2 separate regions of the Homo sapiens genome follow, and region 1 is linked to region 2. Evidence: fine-mapped expression QTL. A gene starts in region 2. The other region holds a variant in brackets. All regions are shown on one strand. Distances are between the middles of the regions. Region 1 overlaps SAR1B (secretion associated Ras related GTPase 1B). Region 2 holds the start of SAR1B (secretion associated Ras related GTPase 1B).

Evidence for each region.
Region 1: its variant is fine-mapped to the expression of SAR1B in lung (TOPMed, PIP above 0.99). The same link has a PIP of 0.9 or more in nasal epithelium and whole blood.

Annotation. Positions count from the first base shown.
Region 1 is chr5:134,610,053-134,612,962 of GRCh38, reverse strand. SAR1B (secretion associated Ras related GTPase 1B) reads left to right here. Exons shown (of 7, transcript NM_016103.4): 4 at 207-272. Among named protein-coding and RNA genes, the nearest start is that of SAR1B, 21 kb to the left of the region's middle. The variant A/T (reference allele first, on the strand shown) is at 1,397.
Region 2 is chr5:134,631,580-134,634,489 of GRCh38, reverse strand. It overlaps SAR1B (secretion associated Ras related GTPase 1B), which reads left to right and starts at 1,662. Exons shown (of 7, transcript NM_016103.4): 1 at 1,662-1,762. RefSeq lists an enhancer at 1,211-1,767 and silencers at 1,741-1,790, 1,841-1,950.

The sequences.
Region 1 (2,910 bases), 22 kb after region 2:
AAAGTACATTGATTTCTTTATTACGGCTGGCAGATATTTAAGAATGTTAGCACGGGTCTTTGAATCAATTTTGCTTCTAAGAGAAGTTACTATTTATTCTTAATTAGATGGGGAGGAAAGTCTTTGAAAAGGAACCTCTACTTTACTTTTTACACGATTAATGGGTTTCTAATTTTCATGTAAAAATATTTTAAAATCTTATTTAGCTTCCGAAGAACTGACCATTGCTGGCATGACGTTTACAACTTTTGATCTGGGTGGACATGTTCAAGGTAAGATTCTTTTTTTTTTTTTTTTTTTTTTTTTTTTTTTTTTTTTTTTAGACAGGCTCACTCTGTCTCCCAGGCTGGAGTGCAGTGGTGCAATCTCAGCTCACTGCAACCTCTGCCTCCTGGGTTCAAGCAATCCTCATGCCTCAGCCTCCCCAATAGCTGGGATTACAGGCATGTGCCACCGCGCCCAGCTGATTTTTGTATTCTTAGTAGAGATGGGATTTCGCCACGTTCAAGGTAAGATTCTCTTACTCTTACAGTCACTTTGTTTTATTTTAACTTAACAAAAATGTGGCCATTAGTTCTAGTGCATGAAATCTCATTCTAGTCACGCAAGGCCAGAGTAGATTTAAAATTTAGGGATTATTACTCCCCGATAAATACTTTAAAAGCAAAGGGTGATTTTCATGATACTTCTGGCCAATTCAAATGAGAATTGCTTTTGGTGGTAAAGTGTATGAGTAAAATTAACTTCCATTCTCTCTACTTCAATCTACCTCTCACTGTCATAATCATGTTTTGAACATGTTACTGCTCTGTAAAACAAAAACAAAACAAAACAAAACAAAAAAACCTTCAGTGGCTAACTCATTACTTACAAAATAAAGGCCAAACTCATTAACCTGGCATTCAGGATCTCTATGATCTGGTCCCAGTTTACTTTTCTGGGCTTTTAAAAATTATCTTATAGAGACAGGGTCTCACTCACTATGTTGCCCAGGCTTGTCTCCAACTCCTGGGCTCAAGCAATCCTCTCATCTCAGTCTCCCAAAAGTTGGGATTATAGGTGTGAGCCACCACATCTGGCCTACTTTTCTTTTATTTCCCTCTATTCCCCTTCCCGTTCTTTTTGCTTCAACCAAATCAGACCTTCTTGGTGTTTTCCTCTGTGCTTTTGTTCATGCCATCCCCATCCGCACATGAGTAACCCCTTTAGGCCCCAGCGTATGCCCTGCTACCTCCCTTGGGAAGCCATTCTCAGTTGGAGTGCTCTCAGCTATACTTCATAGCACTTAGTATATTTGTGTACATGTCTACAACAAGTTTGGAAAGACTGCCTTATCTCTTATATTAAACTTGCGGGGACTAAAATCCTGTTTTTTGTTTTGTTTTAATTAAAAAAA[A/T]TTTTTTTTGTAGAGATGGGGTCTCACAATCTTGCCCAGGCTGATTTTGAAGTCCTGGCCTCAAGCAATCCTCCTACCTCAATTTCCCAAAGTGCTGGGATTACAGGTGTGAGCCACCACACCTGGCCTGTTCATTTTTTATATCCCCAAAAGTACTTGGCAACATCTACCTCATAGTAAGTCATAACTAACCAATATTACCGAATTGGTGGGCATTCTAAAAACCTGATGCGACATATAGTTGAAAAGATTGTAAATGGTTCTGGCTAGTGAAAGCACATTTGAGACATGTAATTGTCTGGCATATACACAAAATAATTTCTGGAATACGATGATTAGAATTGGAATCTAATGGAATTTGTCTGAGACTTCATTTCTATGTTGTTTCAAGATATGTCATAATGGCTGGGTGTGGGGTCTCAGGCCTATAATCCCAGTGCTTTGAGAGGCTGAGGTTGGGAGGATCACTTGAAGCCAGGAGTTCAAGACCAGCCTTGCAACATAGCAAGACCCTGTCTCTACACAGAATTTAACAATTAATGGGGCATAGTGATAGACACTGATAGTCCTACCTACTCAGGAGGCTGAGATGGGACTATGACTTGAGCTCAAGAGTCTGAGGTTGCAGTGAACTAGCCTGGATGACAGAGCAAGACCCTGTCTCTTTAAAAAAAAAAAAAAAAGGTATGTCATAAAACTCAAGTCAGTGAAGAAAGTTATGTTATGGAAAAAATTACTCTTATGATTTCATAGACTTCAGTTAATTATTAACATTTGAGCTTCTTTTCTGAGTAAAACAATTTTGTTTTGGTTTTTTTTTAATTATTTTTTTTGAAACAGAGTCTGGTTCTGTCTCCCAGGCTGGAGTGCAGTGGCATGATCTTGGCTTACTGCAGCCTCTGCCTCCTGGGCTCCATCCTCCCACCTCAGCCTCCCAAGTAGCTGGGCAGGCACACACCACCACACTTTCTAATTTTTTTTTTTTTTTTTTTTTTTTTTTGAGACGGAGTCTCTCTCTGTCACCCAGGCTGGAGTGCAGTGGCATGATCTCGGCTCACTGCCACCTCCACCTCCCGGGTTCAGGTGATTCTCCAAGCCTGGCTAATTTTTGTATTTTTAGTAGAGACACAGGGTTTCACTATGTTGGCCAGGTTGGTCTCCAACTCCTGACCTCAGGTGATCCACCTGCCTCAGCCTCCCAAAGTGCTGGGATTACAGGCATGAGCCACTGTGTCCGGCTTGGCTAATTTTTTGTGTTTTTTTGTAGAGATGAGGTTTCACTATGTTGTCCAGGCTGGTCTTGAACTCCTGAGCTCAAGCAATCCACCTGCCTTGGCCTTCCAAAGTGCTGGGATTACAAGTGTGAGCCACCACACCCGGCCTTATTATTTTAACAAGCTTGTACCTGATATTAATTTCCTTCTGTCACTCATTCCAAATTTATCACTGGCAAAAAAAATCTGATAACTAGAAATGTCAAAAAATGAACACTGCATATATATGTAATATAAATA
Region 2 (2,910 bases):
TGGGCGACAGAGTGAGACTCCGCCTCCAAAAAAAAAAATGCTGACTATCTGACTACACTCCTGTAATCTCAGCACTTTGGGAGGCAGAGGCCGGAGGATCGCTTAAGCCCGGGAGTTCAAGATCAGCGTGGGCAACATAATGAGACCCCTATCTCTACAAAACAATTCAAATATTAGCTGGGCCTGGTGGCACACGCCTGTGGTCCCAGCTACATGGGAGGATTCCTTGAGCCCAAGAGATTGAGGCTGCAGTGAGCTATGATAGCACCACTGGACTCCAGCCTGGGAGAAAGAGCAAGACCGTCTATATATATATATAATTTTTAAATTTATTTTTAATTTAATTAATTTATTTATTTTTTGAGACGGAGACAGAGTCTCGCTCTGTCGCCCAGGCTAGAGTGCAATGGTGCAATCTCGGCTCACTGCAACCTCCACCTCCCGGGTTCAAGCAATTCTCCTGCCTCGGCCTACCGAGTAGCTGGCGTTACAGGCACCTGCCATCATGCCTGGGTAATTTTCGTATTTTTGTAGAGATGGGGTTTCACCATGTTGGCCAGGCTGGTCTTGAACTCTAACCTCAGGTGATTCACCCACCTTGACCTCCCAAAGTGCTGAGATTACAGGTGTGAACCACCGCGCCTGGCCAAGACCGTCTATAAAACAACTGAATAACCAGCTGAATAAAAGCTGAATAACCAGCATCCAACACATTATCTGGTACGTAGCTACATTGTGTAAATCACTGGTGAATTCAATAAGCACAAATAACAAAAAAAGAAAAAAAAATGAATTCAATAAGCACGTGTACTTTGAAAATGTATTTTAGGCAGGGCGCGGTGGTGATCCCAGCACTTTGGGAGGCTGAGGCAGGTGGATCACTTATGCTAGGGAGTTTGAGACCAGCCTGGCCAACATGATGAAACCCGGTCTCTACTAAAAATACAAAAATTAGCCGGGCGCAGTGGCTCACGCCTGTAATCCTAGCACTTTGGGAGGCCGAGGCGGGCGGTTCACTTTAGGTCAAGAGTTCGAGACCAGCCTGGCCAACATGGTGAAACCCCGTCTCTACTAAAAATACAAAAATTAGCCGGGCATGGTGGTGCGCGCCTGTGCTCCCAGCTACTCAGGAGGCTGAGGTAGAAGAATCGCTTGAACCCGGGAGGCGGAGGTTACAGTGAGCTGAGATCGCGCCATTGCACTCCAGCCTGGGCGACAAAATCGAGGCTCCGTTTCAAAAAAAAAAAAAATTAGCCGGACAGTGGTGGCGGGTGCCTGTAGTCCCCGCTACTGGGGAGGCTGAGGTAGGAGAATCTCTTGAATCCAGGGGGTGGAGGCTGCAGTGAGCCGAGATCGTGCCACTGCACCCCAGCCTGGGAGACAGAGCGAGACAACGTCTCAAAAAAAAAAAATGCCAAAAGTAATTTCCCCTAGGGAGGCATGGGGTGTTCCTTTCTCGGCACGCAGGCCCCTAAAATCCCTTCGGGCGGGCGGGTGTGGGGAGACCAGGCGGCTGGGAGACCCAGGCGGTGTTAGGGGTTGCGAGCAGCCTCGCTCAACTGGGGAATTGGCGGCAAGACTGCCAGGAGGCGGAACCTAGGGCGCTCGGCGACGCGGTCCTGCGGACTGTCGCTAGTGAGGCACCCGCCGGCCCGGAAGGGGCTGATGCGAACTGGGGCCACGGCAGCCATCGCGCTTTGCAGTTCGGTCTCCTGGTGTACGGCCAACGCCAAGTAGGGGATTGCGTTCCCTCCAGTCGCAGGTGAGTGACAGCCCCTCCTTCTGGGAGGACCGGTGGGCAGCAGCTATGGATCCCCTAGAAGGCGCACTTTTAGGGCCAAGACCTACTCTGAGTCCCTGCCTGTGGCACTGCGTGAAGGGGCGCCTGTTTTTCACCCCGGGGTTAGGCGGCGCGAGGGAGGACAGGTCTCATCCATGCTCCGCGGGGCCGTCTGATAGCCCTCGAGGCAGAACACTGCTGCTGTCAGACGCTTGGTCTTTTCAGGAAAGAACGAGGTGGCTGCAGGCAAGCCCCTTCCTTCCCCTGGGCCTCAGTTTCCTTACCTGGTAAGGTGAAGGTGGCGGGTCTCACTGACAGCTGAAGAGGCTGTGACACGGCCTGGTGTTTTCAGCGCTCCCAATTAGTGTAGAGGCAAATTGAGCTTCCTTACTAGTACTGGTTAACGTTTTCCGTAGCCCAAAGTCCCAGTTAAGTGGAAAAAAGATACACTGTTGAGAAAACTGTACTGATTTTTGTTTTAATTTTTTAAATTTTTGTTGTTGTTTTGAGACAGAGTTTCCCTCTTGTCGCCCAGGCTGGAGTGAAGTGGCACGATCTCGGCTTACTGCAAGCTCCGCCTCCCGGGTTCACGCCATTCTCCTGCCTCAGCCTCCCGAGTAGCTGGGACTACAGGTGCCCGCCACCACGCACCGCTAATTTTTTTGTATTTTTTAGTAGAGATGGGGTTTCACCGTGTTAGCCAGGATGGTCTCTTATCTCCTGACCTCGTGATCCGCCTGCCTCGGCCTCCCAAAGTGCTGGGATTATAGGCGTGAGCCACCGCATCCGGTCTAACTTTTCTATTTTTAGTAGAGATGGGATTTCTCTATGTTGGCCAGTCTGGTCTCCAACTCCTGACCTCAGGTGATCTGCTCGCCTCGGCCTCCCAAAGTGCTGGGATTAAAGGCATGAGCCACCTCAGTGGGCCACTGTACTGATTTTTAAGGTGTTGAAGCTTTTCCAAGAAGATTTGTTTTAAAACAGCTAAAACTTTGACATTGTTAGCTGAAAGAACCAAATTCGTCAGCAATTTAAGGTGTTTGGTACAGTGGACAAAATGAGGTGAAGAAGTCCTTTTAACTTGAAAAATTAAACATAGTATTATTTATTTGTGTGTTCTTACATCAGCC